Linked DNA regions of Homo sapiens: regions 1, 2, 3, 4, 5 and 7 are each linked to region 6. Evidence: fine-mapped QTL for protein levels in blood plasma. A gene starts in region 6. Each other region holds a variant in brackets. All regions are shown on one strand. Distances are from middle to middle.

The links. PIP is the posterior inclusion probability: the model's chance that the variant is causal. Protein levels are from antibody-based Olink assays in UK Biobank. Linkage for the fine-mapping came from a reference panel and not from the study's own genotypes, which makes the PIPs less certain.
Region 1: its variant is fine-mapped to the plasma level of the GFRAL protein (UK Biobank, PIP above 0.99).
Region 2: its variant is fine-mapped to the plasma level of the GFRAL protein (UK Biobank, PIP above 0.99).
Region 3: its variant is fine-mapped to the plasma level of the GFRAL protein (UK Biobank, PIP above 0.99).
Region 4: its variant is fine-mapped to the plasma level of the GFRAL protein (UK Biobank, PIP above 0.99).
Region 5: its variant is fine-mapped to the plasma level of the GFRAL protein (UK Biobank, PIP above 0.99).
Region 7: its variant is fine-mapped to the plasma level of the GFRAL protein (UK Biobank, PIP above 0.99).

The regions. Positions count from the first base shown.
Region 1 is chr6:55,666,880-55,670,952 of GRCh38, reverse strand. It overlaps a transcript of HMGCLL1 not described here. Among named protein-coding and RNA genes, the nearest start is that of HMGCLL1, 90 kb to the right of the region's middle. The variant T/G (reference allele first, on the strand shown) is at 2,287.
Region 2 is chr6:55,505,793-55,509,865 of GRCh38, reverse strand. The region is part of intron 5 of HMGCLL1 (3-hydroxy-3-methylglutaryl-CoA lyase like 1); the gene reads left to right. Among named protein-coding and RNA genes, the nearest start is that of HMGCLL1, 71 kb to the left of the region's middle. The variant A/G (reference allele first, on the strand shown) is at 2,076.
Region 3 is chr6:55,617,728-55,621,800 of GRCh38, reverse strand. It overlaps a transcript of HMGCLL1 not described here. Among named protein-coding and RNA genes, the nearest start is that of HMGCLL1, 41 kb to the right of the region's middle. The variant T/C (reference allele first, on the strand shown) is at 2,018.
Region 4 is chr6:55,343,774-55,347,846 of GRCh38, reverse strand. All of the region lies in intron 3 of GFRAL (GDNF family receptor alpha like), which reads right to left. Among named protein-coding and RNA genes, the nearest start is that of GFRAL, 18 kb to the right of the region's middle. The variant A/G (reference allele first, on the strand shown) is at 2,125.
Region 5 is chr6:55,686,233-55,690,305 of GRCh38, reverse strand. No RefSeq gene overlaps it. Among named protein-coding and RNA genes, the nearest start is that of HMGCLL1, 110 kb to the right of the region's middle. The variant G/T (reference allele first, on the strand shown) is at 1,831.
Region 6 is chr6:55,325,781-55,329,853 of GRCh38, reverse strand. It overlaps GFRAL (GDNF family receptor alpha like), which reads right to left and starts at 2,385. Exons shown (of 9, transcript NM_207410.2): 1 at 2,278-2,385. The coding sequence starts at 2,299.
Region 7 is chr6:55,352,385-55,356,457 of GRCh38, reverse strand. The region is part of intron 5 of GFRAL (GDNF family receptor alpha like); the gene reads right to left. Among named protein-coding and RNA genes, the nearest start is that of GFRAL, 27 kb to the right of the region's middle. The variant C/T (reference allele first, on the strand shown) is at 1,731.

The DNA.
Region 1 (4,073 bases), 340 kb before region 6:
TTTTAATCTGTCCTTATCATTATATTTGAAGTGAGTTTGGTTGGGTCATGCTTTGTATTCACTCATAATCTCTGTTGCAATTTGTTTGTTTAGATTATTTACATATAATGCAATTATTGATGTTGCAATTATATACAATGCAATTATTTGTTTATTAGCAAGTGATTTTATTATTTACTTTCTGTTGGTTCCTACTTTTTTTATATGTTTCCCCTTTTCTGCCTTCCATTTGTAATTTTCATAATGTATCTTTTTACAATGTTTTATAGTGGTTGCCCAAGGATTATAAATCCATACTAAACTATTAACAGTCTATTAAGAATTTGTATTTTACCACTTCAGTAGGAATATGGAAACATAACTATATAAATTCCTTTACATTCCCCCTTTATGATGTAGGTATCTTATTCATTACATCTACATATATTGACAATCCTAACAATGTTATGTTCTTTGCTTTCAAGCATCGAATATATTTAATAGACCTCAAATGGAATAAAAATGTAACATAACTCAGATGTTTACCATTTTGTTGTTACTTGTTTATTCATGGTATTTTCTTCTGGTATAATTTCTGTTTTGTCTGAAGTACTTTTTTTTAACAATTCTTTATTAAATAGCAGGCCTGCTGGCATTGAATTATCTTAGTTTTCCTTCATCTGAGAATATCTTTATTTCTCTTTCATTATGGAAGGATATTTTTTTTGGAGATAGAATTCTGGAATGACAGTTCTCTTTCCAGGCTGAAGAAAAATATTTTGTGACACCTGTCTGACCTCCATGGCTTATAATAAGAACTCCATAGTCATTCACATATTTCTGCTCCTATAGGGTCATGTGTCTTTTTGAGTGTGTGACCATTTTCAAGAATTTTTCTTTGTATATAGTCTTCAGTATTGTCATTATGATGAATCTGAATGTGAATTTCTTAGGATTGATTCTATTTGTAATTTAACTTCCTAAATCTGTGGTCATATGTTTTCCACCAAATTTAGAACATTTTTAGCTGTTACTTTTTCACATTTTTAAACCTCTAGAGTCTGTTCTCTCCCGGGACTTCAACAACATCATTGTTAAATATTTGCTGTTGCTCCACATTTCCTTGAGGCTCTGTTCATTTTTTAAAAATCTTTCTTCTACCTTTTAAGATTAGACAATTTCTATTGATCTACCTTCAAGTGTTTTGGCTCTTTCCTCTGTCGTTTTCATTCTGCTTTTTAATCTATCCAGTGAGCCTTTAATTTGGGTTATTGAATTTTTCATTTCAAAAACTTCCATTTGATTCTTCTTTGCCTCTTTTATTTATTTGCTGATACTTTGTAGCTTAATATTTGTTTCAAGACTTCGTGATGGCTTTTTTGAACATTCTTATAATAGGTATTTTAAAGCCTTTTTCATCTGTGTTATCTTGTTATTGGTGTCTATTGATTGTATTTTACCATGTAATTTTAGATTATTTTTTTCTTCATAATCCAAGTAATTTTGGATTACATACTGGGCATTTTGAATATTGTGGGGCTGAGTCTTGTTTAAATCTCATGGAGAAAGTTGATGTTTTTTAGTTCAGCAGGCAATTGACTGGTTTGGCTCAGACTACATGTATCAACCCAGCTTTTGTAAGCTGTTTCCAAAGTCAGTTTAATTGCCAAAGTTGTTGCAGTGTTATTCAAATTTGTTTCATGTGTACATCATTCACTGTTCCATGTGGGACCTGGAAGGAAATTGATCCATTTATTCAGTTGGCGAAACTTTTGTATGCTACTAATGATAGATCCAGGCATGTTCAGGTTGACAGTGACTCCAGGAATTAATAAAACATTTCTTTTTTTTTTTTTTTAATTCCTCCTTCTCTACTGTTTTCTTGGAACTTTCTGGTTTCCACAGGCTCTAGTTGTTGGTACTTTGGCCAGAAATTGTCCACTTCTATTACTGTGCGAAGTCTGAGGCCATGTGGTAGGAGGACAGGGAGAAGAGGAAAAAAGAAATGGGTTAGTCCTCACCCTTTTGAAGACACAGCTCTACCAAGTGGAAAGGAAGGTTTCCCTCCCTGGAGTTGTATACCCTACTGATTCCTGTTGCTGGCCACTACTGGTGCTGCTGCTGTGGTACCAGTGAATTGCCTGGGGGATAAGTCATGAGCGAATACAGGAAAAATGAAAGAAAAATAACCACTTGGCTGATTTCCTCTACTTTCTCTGAGATCTGGCAGTTTCCTTCCCTGTTCCCTGAGCCAGGCTTCTCTTAAAGCTCGCTCTTTAACACAATGTTCACTTCCGGGTTTTTGGC[T/G]GCCTTGAGTTCAGGTCAAGGATATTAAAGGAAAAAAATGTAAACTCACCACAGGCTTAGTGGTGATTAGAATTCTGGTATCTTTTCTTTATCCACATATTGCTATTTCCTTTTCAGACTCCTCATAGTCCAGTACATTCAATCTGCCTAGGTTTTATAGTTACGTAAAGTGAGAGAGATGGGATGGGATGTGATGTGTTTACTTTATTTTACCCAGAACCAGAGCCCCTAACTTACAGTTCTTAAACATAAGCAATAGAAGCTGACTCTGGCTGATAAAGAAGAAAAGCTTTTAAAAGGTTATTGGGTAATTTACAGAAGTTTTGAGAGTGTTAAGAACTAGCCGGAAGGCTATATTTTAGGGACAATTCTGTTAACCCTGTCACAGATCCTGCTGGATCAGGGAACACCTGCTACAAGAACAAAGTTGGCATTTGCCAGAAACTCAGCTTTCTCACAACAGCCATGCTGTCAGCAGTGATTCCATCTCCAAAGCCAGAACTCAAACATCCATTTTAGCCCGAAATGCCTTCTTGCTCAAGTCACTCACATCTAAATGAAAGTGTCTCATAGGTGAGTTTAATTTGTACAATCCAAGTCATGTACTTATATTTTTAACAGTGACAGTGTGCCATAGAAGTGAATTCTCTGGGCTCTACTTCATGGAGGAAAATTCCCCAAGCATAGTCAGGGCATTCAAAAGGTATTGGGCAACCAAGAAACATAAAAAACATAAAACAACTTAAAAATCAAAAAATAAAAAAAAAAGTCTGTTGCATTTAGTGTATATTGTATAAGAAATGCCGGTCCTGATTTATTTACTAACAATATGTGATCTATTATGCTAGGAAAAGCATTCATCTGTTCATATTCCTAGAAAGTTTAGTAAAATTAACAGGTATTTTACGTGTTTTGATTGTGGCATTGAACATTGGTAGATAAGGAAAATATTTTATAGATAATGTTCTCTCCAGTTGTGCTTAGAATTTATAATGTTATATATGTTTCCTTTTTATGATTCTGTGCTATAAACAAATCACCACCACCACCAACAAAGCACAAACTGGCTTCTTTCCCTCTGAAGTATTTATGTCTTAATGTGTAGAGTACAGAACACAGACTCTGATGTGAAAAAGCCTCCTTTGTACCGTTTCTTGTCACTTATTAGCTGAGTAGGCTTGGATAAATTACTTAGCTTCTCTGCATCCAGGATTCTTATCTTTGAAATGAGGGTGATAATATCCGTTCCAATCCTATAGAATTACTGAGAGGATTAAATGAGGTAAATGTAAACCCTGGTACATAGTACACACTTGGTAACTTCAGCTATGCTTAGTATTATTAATTTTTAATATGTCAATAAAATAGAGTCATTTATTTTTGCCCTCTAAGATAATCAAAAGTATCTTCAATGTTGAGTAGAATGAAAATTACTTGTTACAACCAATGAATATTTTGTGATTTGTGATGCACTCTTTGCAAGTGATTCATAAATTAAAGGGCTTCTCAATGCTAAATATTGTCCACCTTCTTGTATGTGGTGGACTTAGAAGGTAATTAGAATCTGGAATATCTCTACTGGAAACCCACTTATGCTTCTTTTCAAACACAAGATACAATGCTCTTCAAAGTTAAGAAGGCCGGGCAAAGGTCAATGGAAACTCATGAGTTTTACAACCTAGTCTGTTTAAGAACATGATGTGCAGGAGCCCAAACTTTTGAAAAAAAAAAATAAAAGATTGTGAGTGTTTCCTGGCTTCTATGTATAATGTTGTAAAAGAGACTCA
Region 2 (4,073 bases), 180 kb before region 6:
GTCTACTATTTTTCTCACTATTGACTTTCTTCTTATGCAAAAACAGGGAAAACTTAATTTGGTCTTAAATGCTTCCAAAAGGGATTGCATTACATACAATCGTGAAGAATTCCTTTGATGAAAGATCCTCAATGTTAGGAAATTCTTCCTGTGTTTAATTATTTTTTTTAACTGATTCAGCTCTATATAATTCTCATCCTTTGAAATGGCAATCTTCCCACGTGCCATGAAGTCAGGGCACAGTATTCTCCTTTAAAACACTGTTGTTTCCCCCTTTGAGAGATAATTTATAACTACACACATTTATTCAAAAACTTGCAACCTACTTGCTGAATTAGCCAAACCACCTAGGTCACGTTGCATTGAGTGTGTCTTTCCTCTTCTCCTTGTCTAATGTAGAATCTCAGTATGGACTCAGATCCTGACCCTGAAGATAATAGCAGTCTTGTTGAGTGAGATAATGAGTCTCCTTATTTAGGGCTCCATTTTTAAGTACACTGTGACTAGTAGCTAGCATTTCTTATGACAGCATCAAATCCTTTCCATTGGATGATCTACCTCTATGGAACACTTGCATTTATAGCATCATATTCTTGTAAGTGGGCAGCAAGAAGCTGCCCACAGAAGTTCCTTTCCAAATTCTATTGTTCAACTGAGGCCTAGGTCTGGAAGAACAATTCAATCATCATTATGTACCACCAAAATATGGGACATAAAACTCTAAAAATAAGACATCTGTGAAAGCTATTTTCTTTCATACATATGGTTTGTTTAAGGGTTTGTACTTTTTAAGCTTTATATATTATTCTGGCACTGCTGTGTGCCAGAACAACACATACCCAGCAGCAGTTAATATTTGTAAGCTGGGTTTGTGCAGTTGTGTCTAAATAGCCTTCATTTAGACATTTTGAGGTAAGAATATGTTTAATCATTTCTCATGAAATTAGCATTAATACTTTTTCATTATTAAATATTCTTTTGCTGGATTATACCTTGCCATACCTGGGCAAGAAGTAGAATTTTAATTTACACAAGTAATTTCAAGAAAGTTAGTGGTGTCCCTAAGGTGTGAAATTAATTCAGCACGGATTGTGGTTGAATGGTATATGTTTATAGTCCATACAGTCACTTACAATAATTTAAAATTATTTTTAACATGCTTTTTCTTTTATTATATATGTCAATGTGAAACAAGGATATAACAAAGTGAATTTAATAAGTATGAAAAGAGAGTTGTGCAACATATTAAATAGAAAAATGAACATTTAGAAGTTTTTATCATGAGATTAACTTTACTATGAATTCCTGAAAAGTGTTTACAAATTTACTTTTATTTAGAAACACTATTCATATGAAATTAGAACACAGAATACCTGGAAGAAGTACTCTGAATAAAGTTTGGAAATAATAAGTATTCGATAAATTTATTTCTAATCTTATTTAACTTTTTCAATATAATTCAGCAGAAAACATAATCTTAGGCATTCTTCAATTAATTCAAAATTGAATCAAAAATTTATTTTAAAAATGTAATTAGGGATTGAAATGAGTCAATCTCAGAGCTTTACCTTGGAAATATCTAACCAGATTCTCTGAAAGCATTACTCAACATGTTTAGTAGGGTTACATTAAAATTAAAACAGTAGTAGTGGAGGTAGAGGTAAGGGGAGAATTCATGGTTCAAAAATTTGTGGACACCTGGACTAAACATGGTTATCCTTGTTAACCAGGCCCTCCAAATATAGGACTTCTTTAAACTAGGGCTGGAAGATGGCTGTTGTGTTGGACTGAGTTTCTCACATTTACTGATCTTTGGAATCCCTTTTTCACCTGTCATTTCATGTGGCCAGTGCTCTGAAATTCTCACTTCTTCACTCATCAATCAACTGGACAGAAACCCTAGAAGCTAAATATTTTGAGTGGGTAGGCCAAAAAAAAAGGTGGCAATTAAAGTTTTAGCACTATATGAAAAAGGCAAGATTAGTTTGGTTTCTAGTAGTTGAATTTAACATTGATGCTTTTTTTAATTGTTTTCAAAAGCAGACATGCTGTTGAAGTTTACAAAATAAAATATA[A/G]TGTGGGAGCTATGAAATGAAATGTCTTTCATATTGAACATAAGAGAACAAATTGCACAGTGATGTAAGTTTCAGGTCTCAGAGATTTAAGTGGATCATTAAAAATTTGAGAGCTTGGCTGGAGACAGAGTCAAAAGCCAGGACATACAGAACTCTGAGAAAAGTCTCTGAAACTACATTGGTTTAATTTGTTGAATAAAATAATATTTTGTACATAATCATGCTATTTAAAAAGACAGACTATTTTACAAATCTCTTCTAAAAAACAAACAATATAAGTCATCATAAATGGAACATGAAGTATTACCTGAAGTGTCCAGCCCAGATCATTGGGAACATATTCAGATATTGAGTTGGGTTTAGTTTGAGGGCTGGGGAAACAGGGAGTCTGCCATGCAGGTCCCATTTAGAATTGTCCCAAAGGATACTTAGAGTAGTCCCCCTTGTCTGCAGGAGATGTATTCCAAGACCCCAGTGGATGCCTGAAACTGTCGATAGTATTATAACAAACCCTATGTATACTCTTTTTATCCTTTACATACATATGTATAATAAAGTTTAACCCACAGATATAGCCTCTTCAGTAATTTTTGTATGTTTGAGTCCAAACCTATTCCTGAATCTGTGAAATGTCCTTTACCTGCAGTAATGGCTTGGGGTCACCAGTTTCAGGAGATCCCTTGCTGAAGTCTTACAGGTTCAATGCTTTCTGGTACAACACATGGTCCTCAGTCAGAACATGTTTTCTGTTCATGTCTTCCACACACAAATTTAATGTCTTTCCCATCTTAACTAAGAGCTTATCACATGCTGTGGCTGTGATTTTTGTAGTTTGAGGTACGACAGCAAAGCCAGCATGAATTTATTTTTTCCTTCACAATTCTATTGATAGGAGTTTTATATTCTTACCATAGATGTTAGCAACTTCATCATACAATATTTTTTTTTTCTTTTTAAGTTGAAAACTTTCCCCATTTTACTTAAAGGAAGCACTTTGCAGATTCTTTTTGGTGTATCCAAGTTGCCAACCTCACTATTTTTGGGCTTTGGGTCCATCATTAAGTAAAATAAGTGTTACTTAAACACAAGCACTGAGATACAGTTGATCTCATAACTGAGAGAACCATTAAGTGACTAATGGGATGGGTGCATCTACAGCATGGATATGCTGGTCAAAGGGAAGAGTCACATCTCAAACAGCATGGTATGAGATTTCATCATGTTATTCAGAGTGGCCCACAATTTTAAGCTTATGAATTGTTTATTCTGGAATTTTCCATTTCATATTTTCAGACCATGGTTGACTGCATGTAACTAAGACTGCAGAAAGTAAAACCTTAGATAAGGGAAGGCTACTCTACCAGTATGGGACTCTTAACACTTTTTCCACGTGGCTCTGGGTGGGGCTGAGGCCTTTTAATTAAAAATTACTCCAAGGATTCATCATTTTAAGAGGAAAAAACACAAAGGATCAAATGAAGTAGTTTATCAATTAGAGTGGAAAGACAAATAGAGCAAAAAGGTATAGAAAGTTTCAAAAGGTATGGCAGAAAATAAGATCAAGGTAAAGATAATTTAAAAGTCAGTCTGAACCAGTCTCTATGTCTGGCTTCCCGGGTCTGAGCTTGTAGTTAGTGTGGGAATCTGAGCTTGACACAGGAAGCTTTCTCATTGTAAACAGCTCAACTGATGTAGTAGAAAGACCCAGCCTTCAAGTTGGACAGACAGTTTGGTTTTAAAGCCTAGTTCAGCAGTTTACTCTATTTGTATTCTGCAACCTATTTAATTTACTTGAGGCTCAGGTTTTCCATTGGTGAAATGGATTTATTGTGGAGATTACAAAATTTTAAGCAAATGTCTAGCCCCACATATGTTTAAATATTTTACGTGGCAACTTTTCCAAGGATGAATTGCTGAAGGAGGTTATGCCATTTTCTTTAAAAGAAAACCCTAAAATATTCTAACTTGAATACAAATTTACTTTTTAGTTTCATCAGG
Region 3 (4,073 bases), 290 kb before region 6:
AGACCTGGAATATAACGATGATGGACTGGTGTGAGGGGAATGGTTTTGGGATGATTAAAGAACAGTACATTTATTGTGTACTTTATTTCTGTTATTATTATACTGTAATATGTAATGAAATAATTATGTAACTCACCATAATGTAGAAACAGTCGGAGCACTGAGCTTGTTTTCCTGCAACTAGATGGTCCCATCTGGAGGTGATGGGAGACAATGACAGATCATCAGGCATTAGAGTCTCATAAGGAGCACGCAACCTAGATTGCTCACATGGGCAGGTCACAGTAGGGTTCATGGTACTATGAGAATCTAATGCTGCTGCTGATCTGACAGGAGTTGGAGCTCAGGCGGTAATGTGAGCAATGGGGAGCAGCTATAAATACAGATGAATCTTTGCTCACTCACCCACCACTCACCACCCGTTGTGTTGCCCAGTTTCTAACAGGCCATGGCTCCCATCCATAGCCCAGGGTTTGGGGAGCCCCTACTATAAAACAGTCATGCAAGAAACTGAAAAGAATACCAAAAATGAAAACACTTTCATGTTAAAGTATTGGAATAATCAATGTTGTTAAAATGTCCATAATACCCAAGGCCATCTACAGATTCAGTGCAATCTCTATCAAAAGACCAATGACATTCTTTCACAGAAATAGAAAACAAATTCTTAAATTTATATGGAACCACAGAAGACCCAGAATAGCAAAAGCCATCCTGAGCAAAAAGAATAAAACTGGAAGAATCACATTACCTGAGTTCAAATTATACTGCAGAGTTCTAGTAACCAAAACAGCATGGTAGTGGCATAAAAACAGACCTATAGACCAATGGAAAAGCACATGGAACACAGAGATAAACTTACACATCTATAGTGAATTCATTTTCAGCAAAGGTATCAAGAACAAACATTGGAGAAAGGACAGCTTCATCAATAAATGGTGCTGGGAAAGCTGGACAACCATATGGAGAAGAATAAAACTAGACTTCTTTATACATATAAAAATCAAATCAAAACAAAACAAAAATCAAATCAAAATGGATTAAAAATTTAAATCTGAGACCTGAAATCATAAAACTACTAAAAGAAAACATTGGAGAAACTTTCCAGTACATTAGTCTGGGCAAATTGTGTGTGTGTGTGTGTGTCTGTGTGTCTGTGTGTGTGTGTGTGTGTAACACCCCAAAAGCACAGGAAATCAAAATAAAAATGGACAAATGGGATATTTTAAGTTAAAATGCTTCTATAAGCAAAGAAAATCATAATAATCCAAGTAAAAATGTACAAAAGGCTCAAATAGGCATTTCTCAAAAGAAGATATAAAAGGTAAACATATACGAAGAAGTGCTCAACATTATTGATTATCAGAGAAATGAAAATGAAAGCTACAAAGAAATATAATCTCATCCCAGTTAAAATGGCTTCTATCCAAAAGACAGGAAATAATAAATGCTGGCAAATATATGGAGAAAAGGGAACCCTGGTACACTGTTGGTGGGAATGTAAATTAGTACAGCCACTGTGGAGAAGAGTATGGAGGTTCCTCAAAAAACTAAAAGTAGAACCACCATATGATCCAGCAATTCCACTGATAGGTATATTGCCAAAAGAGAAAAAAATATCAGTGTATCAAACATGGGAATATCTGTACTCCTATGTTTACTGCAGCACTATTCACAATGCTCAAGATTTGGAAGCAACCTAAGTGTCCATCAACAAATGAATGGATAATAAAAAAAGGAGGTACTTATACACAATGGAGTACTCTCAGAAAAAAGAATAAGATCCCGTTGTTTACAACAACATGGATGGAAATGGAAGTCATTATGTTAAGCGATATAAGCCAGGCACAGAAAGACAAACCTCACATGTTCTTAATATTTGTGGGAACTAAAAATTTAGGCAATTGAACTCATGGAGATAGAGAGTAGAATGGAGGCTGGGATGGGTAGTGGAGCGGGGGCGGTGTGGGCATGGTTAATGTGTACCTAAATATAGTTAAATAGAATGAGTAAGATC[T/C]ACTATTTGATAGCACAACAGAGTGACTGGAGATAACAATAATTTATAGTTCATTTAAAAATGACTTAAAGAGTATAATTGGAATGTTTATAATAGAAAGAAGTGATAAATGCTTGGGATAAGTACCCTATTTTCCCTGATGTGATTATTATACATAGTACGCCTGTATCAAAATATCTCACATACCCCATAAATATATACACCTACCACATACCCATAACAATTAATTTTTTTTGGAAAATAAGTATTTATTAACTTCTTGGTTTGTTGAAGAACCAAATAAATATAATTGACTAATTTTAAATATAAGTAGTCAACAGAACCCCCCTCCCATGTGCCACTATTGTTATTTCATTATGAATTTGAAATATGCGAAAAGGCATTAGAATCAGTAGTCTTATTAACTCTGCAGAAACAGTTTATGGTAAAAACAAAATCGTATTTAGATGCCATTTTATGAGGAATGTGAATTTAATGCTTTTACAGCCTGATTTTTTTATATAATTTTTTTTCACTACAATTTCACATGTATTCAACTTCGTAACACATGAGTGCACAGACCAAACATGAAAGTTCTTTTTCATGCCCCTGCACATGTTCCAAATTCATCCATCTGATAGCCTACCAACTTCATCTTCTTTTTGATCCCTATCTTTGACCTCTCCCTCTTCCCACCCCAGTTTTGCCTGCTTGCTCTGGAGGCCTGCTGACAATTTCTACCATCCAGGGATGGGTCCATTGTTTCCTGAAATCCGTGTTTTTCCTCCTTTTGTTTTTTCTTGTGTTTGGAGCAAACACCTCCTTTAGTAACTTCCTAAGAAAAGTTGCATGAACAGTAAACACTTTAAAATCTCACATGCCTGAAAATGTCATTAGTCTCCTCTCACACTTGATAACTAAGTTCACTAGGTGTAAAATTTTAGTTGAGAATCATTTCCTTTTAGAATGTTTAAGGTGTTTAGCTTTTGGTTCTTTTTAACTTTCAATGATTTTTAGCTTTTAAATTTCAGTAAAATCTCTTAGTTAACAAAATTGCTAATAATGTAACTAAAAAGTTACTTTTAACAATCTTATAACATACTTACTGCAGATACTTTGCATATAGACTCTTTCTTTTCTTTTCCTCTTCTCTCTGTAAGCTCTTAAGATATTGTCTTTGTTTCTAGAATTCTAAGTTTACAAATCATAGTACCTGTGTTGGCCTTTTTAAAACTGTTGTGCTGTAATATGGAAATTCATGTTCCTAACTTCTAAAAATACATTGAATTATTTTTTTGATAATTTCTTCTCTATTTGTTCTCTCTGACATGTTTATTATTCATATCCAAATACATTCTCAAAATTTATTTTCTCTTTTTTCTTTCTTACTAGAAGTCCACTAGAGAATAATTTTATTAATGATTTGCTCTATAGGCCACCATTTGTTCAAAAGGTCACTTTTTTTTTTTACTTTTTTTGGTGAACTACAACATACATACAGAAGAGTAAATAAAATATAAATGTACAATTAACAGCTAATTATAATACAAATGCCCACATAATATCTCCCAGGTCAAGCAATAGAACATTACCAGACCCCAGACGTTTCCAGTATGTCTCTTACCAATTATAACATCCTCCCTTCCCATTATCCTGATTTTTATTATAATTACTTCCTTGTTTTACACTATATTATAGTTTCATCACCTATGCATGCATTCCTAAAAATCATGATTTCACTTGACTAAATTTTGGTCTTTATATAAATGCAATCATACTACATGCATTATTTCGAACTTGCTTCATGTGTATATTATAGTTATAAAAATCCACGTTCCTTATAACTATGTTTTTTTATTGCTGTGTAATGTTCCATTGTATGAACATAGCATAATTTATTTATCCATTCTACCTATGATGGATATTTGGGTTGGTTCACACATTGAACAATTATGAGCCATCCTGCTGTGGACCTACTTGTACATATATTCTTGGGCATATGTGCATTTGTTTCCCTAGGGCATGGAGCTCTCTAGAAGGGGAATTGCAAGGATGCACAGAGGGTATATATCATCAC
Region 4 (4,073 bases), 18 kb before region 6:
TTTAAAGCAAAAGCAAAAGAAGATGCTCAAAAGAGACTGAGAAGAATCACCCATGGAAGCAAGAAGAAAAATAGAAAAGTGTAATATCTGGGAAGCCTAGATTTTCTCTAGCCTCACTTCCCTGTAGCTCTTGCTAGTGAATCCTACCCATTTCCCATATAGATCATACCACGATATCATTAGAATGTGTTTATATCTACTTTTCCAGCTTTGTAGCTTCCAAAATATTAATTATTCATCCTTATAAAACATTTCTCCTTCTTTGAATTTTATGCTGTCGGGTTGTGCCTCCCTCTTTTCTTTTGTCAAATATTAACCTCAAAGTCTTGCCCTGATATTCAGCATCGACTCAGGTACTGTCTCAATATTCTCCTCTACCTCAGATCTTGTCATTGTGCTAAGTTATCTCTATGTCTTTTGGGACAAAACCATCTTCCACCCTTAATTCAGAATTCCTTAACCATAGCTCTTATGACCTTCACCGACACTCCAACTATGCCACACCAATGATCGACTTCTAGACCTGACATTGACATGAAGTTCTCTCTCTTTCAATTGCAAATATTACTTATCTTACTCGCTTCCAAAGCTTCACATTCTTGATTATTTCATGTGCACATATACCTCCAGAACTTTCATCTTTTTATTCACTCCCAATCTTAGCATCATCTCCTGGATTCATAGACTCTTTCCAGCCTATATCACTCACCCATTCAGATAAAGGAACAGTTTCTTGTTATTGTCTTTTCGTCCTTTCTTCTTTTACTTTCCCGTGATTCTCTATAAAACTCCAACCCTATAAAATTTTACTGAGTGGTTTATCTGCTCATTTATACTGTTTTGTTTTCTCACAGAAAAGTCACACTATCAACTTAACTAGCATCCCAACAAATTAAAAAATTAATTACCACCAATATTACAGGTTATAGAACCACATAATGTTAATGTTCAATTTCTTTTGGTGATATTTTTCTTCATCACTTACTTTGTTTTTTCTTTTTTTTGGGGGGGGGGGATTTCTTGTTTATTTTTTGTACTGATATCTAGGTTATTTCCACCAAGATAAAATTACATGTTTCTAATTATTTCAGTGTCTTGAAATTTGTTGATATTTGCTTTGACTCAACATATGGTCAACTTTTTTTTTCTTTTACTTTTATACTTTAAGTTCTAGGGTACATGTGCACAACGTGCAGGTTGGTTACATATGTATACATGCGCCATGTTGGTGTGCTGCATCCATTAACTCATCATTTACATTAGGTATATCTCCTAATGCTATCCCTCCCCCCTCCTACCACCCCACGACAGGCCCCGGTGTGTGATGTTCCCCTCCCTGTGTCCAAGTGTTCTCATTGTTCAATTCCCACCTATGAGTGACAATATGCGGTGTTTGGTTTTTTTGTCTTTGGGATAGTTTGCTGAGAATGATGGTTTCCAGCTTCATCCATGTCCCTACAAAGGACATGAACTCATCCTTTTTTATGGCTGCATAGTATTTCATGGTGTATATGTGCCACATTTCCTTAATCAAGTCTATCATTGATGGACATTTGGGTTGGTTCCAAGTCTTTGCTATTGTGAATAGTGTTGCAGTAAACATACGTGTGCATGTGTCTTTATAGCAGCATGATTTGTAATCCTTTGGGTATATACCTGGTAATGGGATGGTTGGGTCAAATGGTATTTCTAGTTCTAGATCCCTGAGGAATCGCCACACTGTCTTCCACAATGGCTGAACTAGTTTACAGTCCCACCAACAGTGTAAAAGTGTTCCTATTTCTCCACATCCTCTCCAGCACCTGTTGTTTCCTGATTTTTTAATGATCGCCATTCTAACTGGTGTGAGATGGTATCTCATTGTGGTTTTGATTTGCATTTCTCTGATGGCCAGTGATAGTGAGCATTTTTTCATGTGTCAGTTGGCTGCATAAATGTCTTCTTTTGAGAAGTGTCTGTTCATATCCTTCACTCACTTTTTGATGGGGTTGTTTTTTTCTTGTAAATTTGTTTGAGTTCTTTGTAGATTCTGGGTAGTACCCCTTTGTCAGATGGGTAGATTGCAAAAATTTTCTCCCATTCTGTAGGTTGCCTGTTCACTCTGATGGTAGTTTCTTTTGCTGT[A/G]CAGAAGCTCTTTAGTTTAATTAGATCCCATTTGTCAATTTTGGCTTTTGTTGCCATTGTTTTTGGTATTTTAGACATGAAGTCCTTGCCCGTGCCTATCTCCTGAATGGTATTGCCTAGGTTTTCTTCTAGGGTTTTTATGGTTGTAGGTCTAACATGTAAGTCTTTAATCCATCTTGAGTTAATTTTTGTATAAGGTGTAAGGAAGGAATCCAGTTTCAGCTTTCCACATATGGCTAGCCAGTTTTCCCAGCACCAGTTATTCAACAGGGAATCCTTTCCCGATTTCATGTTTTTGTCAGGTTTGTCAAAGATCAGATGGTTGTAGATGTGTGGTATTATTTCTGAGGGCTCTGTTCTGTTCCATTAGTCTATATCTCTGTTTTGGTACCAGTACCATGCTGTTTTGGTTACTACTGCCTTGTAGTATAGTTTGAAGTCAGGTAGCAAGATGCCTCCAGCTTTGTTCTTTTGGCTTAGGATTGTCTTGGCAATGCGGGCCCTTTTTTGGTTCCATATGAACTTTTTAAAGTAGTTTTTTCCAATTCTGTGAAGGAAGTCATTGGTAGCTTGATGGGGATGGCATTGAATCTATAAATTACCTTGGGCAGTATGGCCATTTTCATGATATTGGTTCTTCCTATCCATGAACATGGAATGCTCTTCGATTTGTTTGTGTCCTCTTTTATTCTGTTCAGCAGTGGTTTGTAGTCCTCCTTGAAGAGGTCCTTCACATCCCTTGTAAGTTGGATTCCTAAGTATTTTATTCTCTTTGAAACAATTGTGAATGGGAGTTCACTCATGATTTGGCTCTCTGTTTGTCTATTATTGGTGTATAGGAATGCTTGTGATTTTTGCACATTGATTTTGTATCCTGAGACTTTGCTGAAGTTGCTTATCAGCTTAAGGAGATTTTGGGCTGAGATGATGGGATTTTCTAAATATACAGTCATGTCATCTGCAAACAGGGACAATTTGACTTTCTCTTTTCCTAATTGAATACCCTTTATTTCTTTCTCCTGCCTGATTGCGCTGGCCAGAACTTCCAACACTATGTTGAATAGGAGTGGTGAGAGAGGGCATCCCTGTCTTGTGCCAGTTTTCAAAGGGAATGCTTCCAGTTTTTGCCCATCCAGTATGATATTGACTGTGGGTTTGTCATAAATAGCTCTTATTATTTTGAGATACATCCCATCAATACCTAATTTATTGAGAGTTTTTAGCATGAAGCGTTGTTTAATCTTGTCAAAGGCCTTTTCTGCATCTATTGAGATGATCATGTGGTTTTTGTCTTTGGTTCTGTTTATATGCTGGGTTATGTTTATTGATTTGCGTATGCTTTGAACCAGCCTTGAATCCCAGGGATGAAGCCCACTTGATCATGGTGGATAAGCTTTTTGATGTGCTGCTGGATTCGGTTTGCCAGTATTTTATTGAGGATTTTTGCATCAATGTTCATCAGGGATATTGGTCTAAAATTCTCTTTTTTTGTTGTGTCTTTGCCAGGCTTTGTTATCAGGTTGATGCTGGTCTCATAAAATGAGTTAGGGAGCATTCCCTCTTTTTCTATTGATTGGAATAGTTTCAGAAGGAATGGTACCAGCTCCTGTTTGTATTTCTGCTAGAATTCAACTGTGAATCCATCTGGTCCTGGACTTTTTTTTTGGTTGGTAGGCTATTAATTACTGCCTTAATTTCAGAGCTTGTTATTGGTCTATGCAGGGATTCAACTTTTTCCTGGTTTAGTCTTGGTAGAGTGTATGCATCCAGGAATTTATCCATTTCTTGTTGATTTTCTGGTTTATTTGTGTAGAGGTGTTTATTCTCTGATGGTAGCTTGTATTTCTGTGGGATGTATTTCTGTATTAAATGGTGATATCCCCTTTATCATTTTTTATTGCTTCTATTTGATTCTTCTCTTTTTTCTTCTTTATTAGTCTTGTTAGCAG
Region 5 (4,073 bases), 360 kb before region 6:
TCTTAATCCAGTCTATCATTGTTGGACATTTAGGTTGGTTCCAAGTCTTTGCTATTGTGAGTAATGCCACAATAAACATACGTGTGCATGTGTCTTTATAGCAGCATGATTTATAGTCCTTTGGGTATATACCCTGTACTGGCATGGCTGGGTCAAATGGTATTTCTAGTTCTAGATCCCTGAGGAATCGCCACACTGACTTCCACAATGGTTGAACTAGTTTACAATCCCACCAACAGTGTAAAAGTGTTCCTATTTCTCCACATCCTCTCCAGCACCTGTTGTTTCCTGACTTTTTAGTGATTGCCATTCTAACTGGTGTGAGATGGTATCTCATTGTGGTTTTGATTTGCATTTCTCTGATGGTCAGTTATGGTGAGCAATTTTTCATGTGTTTTTTGGCGCATAAATGTCTTCTTTTGAGAAGTGTCTTTTCATATCCTTCGCCCATTTTTGATGGGGTTGTTTGTTTTTTTCTTGTAAATTTGTTTGAGTTCATTGTAGATTCTGGATATTAGCCCTTTGTCAGATGAGTAGGTTGCAAAAATTTTCTCCAATTTTGTAGGTTGCCTGTTCACTCTGATGGTAGTTTCTTTTGCTGTGCAGAAGCTCTTTAGTTTAATTAGATCCCATTTGTCAATTTTGGCTTTTGTTGCCATTGCTTTTGGTGTTTTAGACATGAAGTCCTTGCCCATGCCTATGTCTTGAATGGTAATGCCTAGGTTTTCTTCTAGGGTTTTTATGGTTTCAGGTCTAACATGTAAGTCTTTAATCCATCTTGAATTGATTTTTGTATAAGGTGTAAGGAAGGGATCCAGTTTCAGCTTTCTACATATGGCTAGCCAGTTTTCCCAGCACCATTTATTAAATAGGGAATCCTTTCCCCATTGCTTGTTTTTGTCAGGTTTGTCAAAGATCAGATAGTTGTAGATAAGCGGCGTGATTTCTGAGGGCTCTGTTCTGTTCCATTGATCTATATCTCTGTTTTGGTACCAGTACCATGCTGTTTTGGTTACTATTGCCTTGTAGTATAGTTTGAAGTCAGGTAGTGTGATTCCTCCAGCTTTGTTCTTTTGGCTTAGGATTGACTTGGGGATGTGGGCCCTTTTTTGGTTCCATATGAACTTTAAAGTAGTTTTTTCCAATTCTGTGAAGGAAGTCATTGGTAGCTTAATGGGGATGGCATTGAATCTGTAAATTACCTTGGACAGTATGGCCATTTTCACGATATTGATTCTTCCTACCCATGAGCATGGAATGTTCTTCCATTTGTTTGTATCCTCTTTTATTTCCTTCAGAAGTGGTTTGTAGTTCTCCTTGAAGAGGTCCTTCACGTCCCTTGTAAGTGGGATTCCTAGGTATTTTATTCTCTTTGAAGCAATTGTGAATGGGAGTTCACTCATGATTTGGCTCTCTGTTTGTCTGTTGTTGGTGTATAAGAATGCTTGTGATTTTTGTACACTGATTTTGTATCCTGAGACTTTGCTGAAGTTGCTTATCAGCTTAAGGAGATTTTGGGCTGAGACAATGGGGTTTTCTAGATATACAATCATGTCGTCTACAAACAGGGACAATTTGACTTCCTGTTTTCCTAATTGAATACCCTTTATTTCCTTCTCCTGCCTAATTGCCCTGGCCAGAACTTCCAACACTATGTTGAATAGGAGTGGTGAGAGAGGGCATCCCTGTCTTGTGCCAGTTTTCAAAGGGAATGCTTCCAGTTTTTGCCCATTCAGTATGATGTTGGTTGTGGGTTTGTCATAGATAGCTCTTATTATTTTGAAATACGTCCCATCAATACCTAATTTATTTATAGTTTTTAGCATGAAG[G/T]GTTGTTGAATTTTGTCAAAGGCCTTTTCTGCATCTACTGAGATAATCATGTGGTTTTTGTCTTTGGTTCTGTTTATATGCTGGATTACATTTATTGATTTGCGTATATTGAACCAGCCTTGCATCCCAGGGATGAAGCCCACTTGATCATGGTGGATAAGCTTTTTGATGTGCTGCTGGATTCGGTTTGCCAGTATTTTATTGAGGATTTTTGCATCAATGTTCATCAAGGATATTAGTCTAAAATTCTCTTTTTTGGTTGTGTCTCTGCCTGGCTTTGGTATCAGGATGATGCTGGCCTCATAAAATGAGTTAGGGAGGATTCCCTCCTTTTCTATTGATTGGAATAGTTTCAGAAGGAATGGTACCCGCTCCACCTTCTACCTCTGGTAGAATTCGGCTGTGAATCCATCTGGTCCTGGACTCCTTTTGGTTGGTAAGCTATTGATTATTGCCACAATTTCAGCTCCTGTTATTGGTCTATTCAGAGATTCAACATCTTCCTGGTTTAGTCTTGGGAGAGTGTATGTGTCGAGGAATTTACCCATTTCTTCTAGATTTTCTAGTTTATTTGCGTAGAGGTGTTTGTAGTATTCTCTGATAGTAGTTTGTATTTCTGTGGGAACGGTGGTGATATCCCCTATATCATTTTTTATTGCATCTATTTGATTCTTCTCTCTTTTTTTCTTTATTAGTCTTGCTAGCGGTCTATCAATTTTGTTGATCTTTTCAGAAAACCAGCTCCTGGATTCATTAATTTTTTGAAGGGTTTTTTGTGTCTCTATTTCCTTCAGTTCTGCTCTGTTTTTCATTATTTCTTGTCTTCTGCTAGCTTTTGAATGTGTTTGCTCTCGCTTTTCTAGTTCTTTTAATTGTGATGTTAGGGTGTCAATTTTGGATCTTTCCTGCTTTCTCTTGTGGGCATTTAGTGCTATAAATTTCTATCTACACACTGCTTTGAATGCATCCCTTAGATTCTGGTATGTTGCGTCTTTGTTCTCATTGGTTTCAAAGAACATCTTTATTTCTGCCTTCATTTCGTTATGTACCCAGTAGTCATTCAGGAGCAGGTTGTTCAGTTTCCATATAGCTGAGCGGTTTTGAGTGAGTTTCTTAATCCTGAGTTCTAGTTTGATTGCACTGTGGTCTGAGAGATAGTTTGTTACAATTCCTGTTCTTTTACATTTGCTGAGGAGAGCTTTACTTCCAAGTATGTGGTCAATTTTGGAATAGGTGTGGTGTGGTGCTGAAAAAAATGTATATTCTGTTGATTTGGGGTGGAGAGTTCTGTAGATGTCTATTAGGTCCACTTGGTGCAGAGCTGAGTTCAATTCCTGGGTATCCTTGTTGACTTTCTGTCTCATTGATCTGTCTAATGTTGACAGTGGGGTGTTAAAGTCTCCCATTATTAATGTGTGGGAGTCTAAGTCTCTTTGTAGGTCACTCAGGACTTGCTTTATGAATCTGGGTGCTCCTGTATTGGGTGCATCTATATTTAGGATAGTTAGCTCTTCTTGTTGAATTGATCCCTTTACCATTATGTAATGGCCTTCTTTGTCTCTTTTGATCTTTGTTGGTTTAAAGTCTGTTTAATCAGAGACTAGGATTGCAACCCCTGCCTTTTTTTGTTTTCCATTTGCTCGGTAGATCTTCCTCCATCCTTTTATTTTGAGCCTATGTGTGTTTCTGCACGTGAGATGGGTTTCCTGAATAGAGCACACTGATGGGTCTTGACTGTTTATCCAATTTGCCAGTCTGTGTCTTTTAATTGGAGCATTTAGCCCATTTACTTTTAAAGTTAATATTGTTATGTGTGAATTTGATCCTGTCATTATGATGTTAGCTGGTTATTTTGCTCGTTAGTTGATGCAGTTGCTTCCTAGTCTCGATGGTCTTTACAATTTGGCATGATTTTGCAGCTGCTGGTACCGGTTGTTCCTTTCCATGTTTAGCGCTTCCTTCAGGAGCTCTTTTAGGGCAGGCCTGGTGGTGACAAAATCTCTCAGCATTTGCTTGTCTGTAAAGTATTTTATTTCTCCTTCACTTATGAAGCTTAGTTTGGCTGGATATGAATTTCTGGGTTGAAAATTCTTTTCTTTAAGAATGTTGAATATTGGCCCCCACTCTCTTCTGGCTTGTAGAGTTTCTGCTGAGAGATCCGCTGTTAGTCTGATGGGCTTCCCTTTGAGGGTAACCCGACCTTTCTCTCTGGCTGCCCTTAACATTTTTTTCTTCATTTCAAC
Region 6 (4,073 bases):
TTTTAAATCTTACCTCTTTGCAAATCTCATCTTATAAGAAGAATCCAAGACAACTGATTGGACCATGTGTACTACTTGCTGGGTCACTGCATTTGGAGATTAGGCCCATGGGTGTAGCTTGGTAACATTTTTCTTGCTGAGGGCTGGAGTGGAAATGGACATATCAGCTTTCTGTTTTCTCATGTGTTCATGGACAACCTCATCTAGCCAAGCCCTTGTACTCCTTATTTGGCTAGCCCAAAGAAAGAAAAAGAGGACTCTTTTGATCCTAGCACAAATTTACTTGGTCAAATCCAGTTTTCCAAAGACCCAGAAATAGAAATTTGAAGTCATAAACTCAACTTATAAGAAAATGGTATTTTATTTGCCATTAATCATTATATCTTGTGAAAAGCCCCTTCAAGAATCTTATAAGTGATAATATCCCAGATATATCATCAAAACTTCATCAGTACTTCAGAGTAATAATCACTTAGAAATACTACATGTTGTCTTCCCCAAATATGTTTTACTTCCTTTCACATTTTCAGTTTTTAATGTTTTACTTCCTTTCACATTTTCAGTTTTTGGTTGAACAAGCTTCTTAATAGATTATTTTATAGGATTTTCCACACTTCCTACTCAACAAAATATTGACTCAACTAAGAAAACCACCTCAATGATTTGGTCCACAAGAATCAAGAATGTATTACCTCTCCAAAATCTGTCTTATTCATTCCAAACTATGACTTGTGGTTTTGTATTTAACCTAGGATTTTTCAAGAATTTTCCTGTAATACTCAATGAAAAATAACTTCTATTTTTAAATTAATAAGATGGATAATGCTGCAAATTATATCAGTGTTTTAAAGATGTATGGGGCTTATTATCCTACTAAATGTTCTGAGATTTTAAAATTCATTGTTTTCCACATTTCTTTACCAACAGACATTTTCCTCATTATAAGACCTATTTAGATAATGTCAAACAAGCATTCTAAAAAATATAATATGGGAAATGTTGGTACAACATATCAAATAGTATAATTTTAGTTCTAACAATGTTAAGAAGTTATTTCCCTCCTTCATGCAACCTGGTGTCAAGTTAATTTAGAAGTAAAAGATGAAAATAAGAGGCCATTGCCTTTTCAACTGAGGTCATAATGAGTCTGTAATGTATTTTGTGAGCTTCATTATATTGCTGCCTGATCTATAAAAATTAAAGTTTCCTATATTTCTCTTTATCACAAAAAAGAACTAAAGAAATATTAACAATCTTTATAAAAATAAGAAAATATTTTAGGAATAATTACAAAAAGCAAAATTATGGAACAATGGAAAAATATTACTTAAACAAAAGAAAAACTGAAAATATAAGGGATTTCTCTCCTTCTTAACTTGTTTCCTTGACTTGATATGACTCTCCTTTTATGTTCGATACAATTTAAAGTAAACTTCTTTGCTTTCTGGCCCATAATTATGCCTTTATTCAAGTATATATTAGCTTAAACATAAAATGCCATATTTTTAAAATTACAATCTAGCTACAGTTACAATTATTCCTTTTCTGAATTCAGTTTATAGATTCTACCAAATGCTAAAGAAGATATAAAATATTCTCCAGTCACACATCTAGCAAATAGATTCATGGATTCTACATTAAATAAAAATAAATTATTTTTCATCAACATCTTATAATACATTCATCGGATCCAATACAAGAGAAGTAAGTCCACACTTGAGTTCTAGGTCATAAAAATTAATGAAAATATGAAGCATTCTGATATGGTGTTAAGTGGTTTTACTTCACTAAATTACTTCTAGTTAGCAAATATTAACACTGTAGGTAAATTGAATGTTTTAAATTAATCTTATTTTTGTTTAATTTCAAAGCAAAATAAATAAAATAGATAACAGTTTGAAATTTTTCATCTTATAACTTGTAAATAGATACTGGAAGGTTTTATTTTTATTTCTAAAAGGTTCTAACACATGTGTGAATTCCATTAATCCTAATAAGTAACTCAAAGTCATTGGGTCATTCTATACAATAAAACAGAAACAAGCTGAGAGATTAATACAATTTTCACATGCTGCATTATCTATAGAGTTAGAAATAAGTGAGTAAAAGTGAGTGTACATTTTTGCAAGAAGAATAAACCATGTTAAAGCATAAATTTGTAATTTACTTGGTACTTCATATTATAAGCCCCTGTTAAGCTTAAGTGTGATGGTATTCAGTTTACAAAGAATTAGTATTATGAATAATTCAGATAAACCAGAAGCACCATTCACTTACCCAAGAAAATAAACACTATCATGCTGGACAACTCACGGCAGTTCACCTGGAAAAAAAGGCAGATGCGTTTCTTCTGACAACTTTCTTAAGAGTAACTGTCCAGAATAAGGCTTCAGCCTCTGTGTTTGCTTCCTAAAGGCATTACCAATTCAAGTCAGCTTCCTATATCATCATTTCCTCCCCAGTGTTTCCTAAGTTGTGAACTGTTCTAATTATATTCAAATTCGATTATTCTCCTGAGGGTGCTGGTCTTGAATATTAGGATATTATGCCTCTAAGAAAGCCCATGAGCCAAATACTAAGAGAAATGATACATAATCTGCACGTTCATGAAAAAGGTTTATTTTCCTTAACTAAAATACAACACTACGTAAAAGCCTCCCAAATATGACCCAAAATTTTCAAAGACACTTGAGCATACTCAGTCTCCACTTGTTTAATTAGCCTCATTAAGGCAATTTCATGTCATTTGAGGATATAGAAAAGCTAAAAACGCATAATAGCCCTGGAAAATGTATGCAAAATCGAAGTTCTACTAGAATTAGCCTGATATAACTCAAACATACTGGGAAGCTGCTTCCCAAACAAAGAATGTTGTATTACATGTGCCACAAACCCCAGTATGCTTAAAAATTATGCCACTTCAGCTACAGTATCTGATACCTTCCAAGTACAGCTACAGTGTAAAAAACATACTCTTCTCAGTGATGCAGAAATTCTATGTTCCACTGGAAAGATAATCATCTACATTTGTGTGCATCACTTGACAACTATTTTTTTTCCTAGTTTCAATGAAGGGACTTATTTATCTTATGCCTTGGTTTGGCTACGCCCTTCCTCATGTAAACCTACAGCACATCATCTTTCTTGGGGTGTCATGAGACTTCTATTTCTAAATCACCTGGAGGCCTTTCTAGAATGAATGCTTAAAAAATAAAATGCTGCTTTGGCAAGAAATTAAGAAGAGATAGGGATGGGAGAGAAGTATTTGTGCAGTTACACCATTGAGTTTTTGATTGCATATTGTTCATGTTTATTTTATACCAGTAGAGAAGTTATACTATATTTTGTTTTCAGCAGGCATAATGAAAAAACACAGACTCTAGAGTCCAACAAACAAAAATTATAACACTGCTTTTCTCTATAGATCTAGATGAGTGACTTAGCATTGGAAGTTATTCACTCCTTTGTAAAATGTGTCAATTGTATTAATTCTTGCTGTAATATAAGGTATGTATATGAGGGGCTTATATCACAAAAAAATTGATTATATTACATTCACTGACTTAATTATTACATAATAGAAGGATTATAATATCATAAAATTAATCAATCTTTTCTTCTTTTCAAGGGATTGAGTCACTAAACTTTCCTAATGACTTCTACCAAGACAAGCTTAGATATAAGCCAACTTAAAAGGACTTAAACTAGGACAGAGTTGGTTACTACCATAGTTGAAGAGTCCGTGGGAAGAATTAATTTCAGGTGTGTTTTAAACTGTTTTCTCTGGGTCTAAGTTGTTTGTTTCCTCCTGTCTCTTACCTGCATTCTTCTCTACCAGTTCTATTCCCAGAAAGGCTATTTCCTTCTGGTGGGAAGATGGCTGTGAAGCCCTTGGCAAACATCCTTCTCTCTTAGAAAGCAGGGTAGAAAGTGTCATTCTTTTACTATTAAAGTTGCAGAATTAAGTCACATCAGTTCTAGATGTGTCAAGTGCCAATCAATTTTACAAAAGGAACTTACCCCATGTCCAGTATCATAGATACAGGTTGTCAGTGTAGTTGGCCCTTTTCAAA
Region 7 (4,073 bases), 27 kb before region 6:
TAAATTTGTAGACACAACCTACCAAGATTGAACTATAAAGAAGTCCAAATCCTGAACAGACCAATAACAAGTAATGAGATCGAAGCTATAATAGAAAGTCTCCCAGCAAGGGAAAACCTGGGACATGATGCTGAATTTTACCAAACACTTAGAGAGGAACTAATACCAATTCTACTAAAAATATTTCCAACAATAGAGGAGGGAATACTTCCAAACTCATTCTTTGAGGCCAGTATCACCCTAATACCAAAACCAGACAAGACATACCAAGGAAAGTAAACTACAGGACAATTTTCCTGAAGAACATTAATGCAAAAATCCTCAACAAAATCCTAGCAAACCAAATGCAACAACACATTAAGATTTTTCATCATGACCACGTGGGATTTATCCTAGTGATACAAGGATGGTTCAATATATGAAAATCAATCAGTTTGATACATCATATCAACAAAATGAAGGACATAAAACATGATCTTTTCAATTGATGCTGAAAAAGCATTTGCTAAAGTTCTCTACGTTCCTTCATGATAAAAGCCTCAAAACCAGGATATAGAAGGAATATACCTCAACAGAATAAATGCCATATATGACAGAGCAGACCAATAGCTAGTATCATATAAAATGGGGAAAAACTGAAAGCTTTTCCTCTATGATCTGTAATGAGACAAGGATGCCTACTTTCATCACTATTATTCAACATAGTGCTGGAAGTCCTAGCCCAGCAATTAGACAAGAGAAGGAAAAGAAAAGGGGGGCATCCAAATTAGAAAGGTAGAAAAATTTGTTTGCAGATTATATAATTTTATATTTGAAAAGACCCAAAGACTCCACCAAGGAACTCTTAGAACTGATCAACAAATTCAGTAAAGTTGCAAGATATAAAATTAACATACAAAAATCAGTAGCATTTCTATATGCTAACAGCAAGCAATCTGAAAAACAAATCTTCAAAGTAGTCCCATTTACAATAGCTACAAATAAAATAAGATACTTGGAATATGTCTAAATGTCCAAAAAAGACTAAGCAAATTAATTAAGCTACATCCATGCAATGGCATACTCTATAGCCATTCAAACATTTGAGAATTTTCTTTTTTTTAATTTATTCTAAGAAAAATGAGATAGATGTGCAGAACGTGCAGGTTTATTACATAGGTACGCATGAGCCATGGTTGTTTGCTGCACCTATTGACCTGTCCTCTAAGTTCCCTCCCCTCGCCCCCGACTCCCTAACAGACCCTGATGTGTGAATTTTCTTATATGCAATTATGGAAAGATCTTTAATCCACATTTAGGGAAAAAAAACAAAAACAATATATAGAGAAGTATATAATATGATGTCATCTGTTTTAAATCAATTAAATAATGCATACATATTTAAAAGTATTTAGAATATTTCCTAAGCAAATACCTTGTCATTACTTTTTTAAGTTAATATATAAAAATATAATGTATTATAATTTTCTGTAAATACCCAGACTTTTGTGAAATTGGCAAGACATAATCTCACCTCCCTGAGGGTGTCGGTACTAGAGAAAGGTAATTGAGAAATGGCCCTTAAATTGTTCTCTTTGGCAGTTAAAAAATAAAGGAATTTCAAAGCCCATCGTGAATTGAAAAATTTGGAACAGGGACAGAAATTGTATTTTAAAACTGAAGTGCCCTGTTTTGCCTATGTACAGGCTCTTCTGCAAAAAAGATAAGTATCATAAAGGGCTTAATATTCT[C/T]ATTGAAGAAGTGGTTTTCCATTTGGAGATTTGTTTTTCATCTGAATTACATTAACAATAATTTAATATAAAAGCTGGAAATCTCCCTAAGGCAAAATGTGCTCAGGAAAATGATAGGATTTGTCTTTTCACATTGACTACTAATATTATATAACATTTCCATCACCTCTATAAAGTACTGATTAAGGGACTATTTGCACATAGTGAAAGGAAATTGAAGACACACAGTCCTTACACTTGAACTAATCTAAGAAATAAATTACATGAGAAGAAATACATATATGTATACTAAAATATAACAATTAAGTGTACAATATTCAAAAGTGAGAGGAAGGGAGATGACGTTTTTTGAGTGCTTATCCCACTCCAGACCCCACACCAAACATTTTGAAAAGGTGGTTAAAGCTGGGGGTCCTTGTTGAGGAAAATCATCAACTCTGTGCCAGTCCATCTGAGAAGGTGTTGATACCAAGGGGAGGTTAGTGTAAGAGTGTGTGCTTCAGAGTCTATCACAGGAATTCTCAAGGACTATAGCAGCAGAGCCACCACTTGCTATTAAAATATTTTCTTTGATGTGGATGCTCAGAAATACCATGCTTTGAAGGTTGAATGCTAATGGCTTCCAGATAATTAGATAGCATATCGAAAGCCCTGGCACTGGAATCAGGCAAAGCTGGGTACCCATCTGTGAATAAATCTGATATTTTTATAGTGATTTTGCTATTGAAACCATGGTGCCCCTGGCCCTGGCTGGTTAAAATATTATTAGGTTTCATTGTTGATGTAGGAATATGATAGTTAGAAAGGCAGAATAGTAATAGTTTTAGTTCATTTGAGGTGAGAAAAGTAGTGTAATCACATGTGTTTGATATTTCATTGATTTCATATTTCATTGATTTCAGAAGATACCATTATTTTATGTACAACAACAATAACAACAAAAAACACCTGCTGGAACTTAAATTATGACAAATGTCTTTGTTATTGACCTTAAAAATTTATTTAAAATATGTCAGAGATGTTAAAATGTGTAAAAAGAAATTGCATCTTAGAATCAATGAAATGTAGTATTTCTCTAATAAGGATTTTTGAGATGATAAATGAGTTTGAAAAACCTAAATTGCATTATAAAAAGTATTTTGTCAATGCCTTATTCACTCAAGAAAAATAAATAATAAGCCTTAAAATAACTGACACATTTGCATGAAAAATTCTTGAATACAATTTTAAGAACCTTGATATCCTATAAGTTGACGAAATATGTCAATGCTCTAGGACTCTGCTTAGCTCTTTACCACTTATTTCATAGAATGTGTGCTATAGGGAAGCAGTTCTTTTTAACAAATGTTTACAAGATCTGGAACTACTTTGCCAGTTAGAGTGACTGAAAATAAGAGTAGACATAGTTAAAAAGCTAAAAGAGAGAATTTTACTAAGAACCTTCAGGAAGTTGATATCATTACTTTTTGTGTTTTTTTGCCAGTAGTTGAAACAAGGGGACAAATATGACAAATCACACACTAAGCCACCTACATGTCCGAAGCCCTAGGCAGTGTCCTTCAAGCCCTCATATGATATAGGCCTGTTCACACCCACTCAATTAACTCTCTTATCTCGCTCCTATTTCTCTCCCCTTTGCACACTCTACCCTCACTGCTTTTCTAAAATGCCACATACATGTTTTCCTAAGCACTGGCTGGTCAGTTTGCTTAATATCTCCTCTCTCAGTATCTACTGTTTGCCTAGTGTTGTTTGCCTTAAAACAACACATACATTTTTAATTTAATATCTGTCTTCTCTCTGGACTATAAGATCCATAGGCATTTGTTTTCCTTATTCGCCATTGCCTAGAGTAGTAGTAGGTGCTTGATAAATTTTTTTTGAATTAATAAATAAACGACTAACATTACTCCCCCAATAATTAAAGGTGTGAGGTTAGAAAGAGGAGAATGAATACATTTCTATGGTCATAGCATACATGTGTGCTAGGGATGTCCAAATCCTACTTGTATAGAGCATCCTTGACATAAGTAACTCCAAAAAAGACTCCATCTTAGATTTCATACGGTACTTTTCCAACAGGGACAAAATATTTTGCTAAATAAACAATACTGCATCCAACCAAATAAGGACATAAACAAGCATACTCTTCCACTATCGGTCCTCTCAAGAGGACTCTGTGGCCATAAAGAGAGTAGGACTTCAGCAGCTCAAAATGGCCATCTTACCTGACACCATCTTGCTGTCGCTCATAAGCACCCAGCATCTGCTGCCAACAATTCTCCCCACATCAGACTCTTCCTTGCAAGATCAATGGACAGCCCAGATAAGACCAGAAGAATC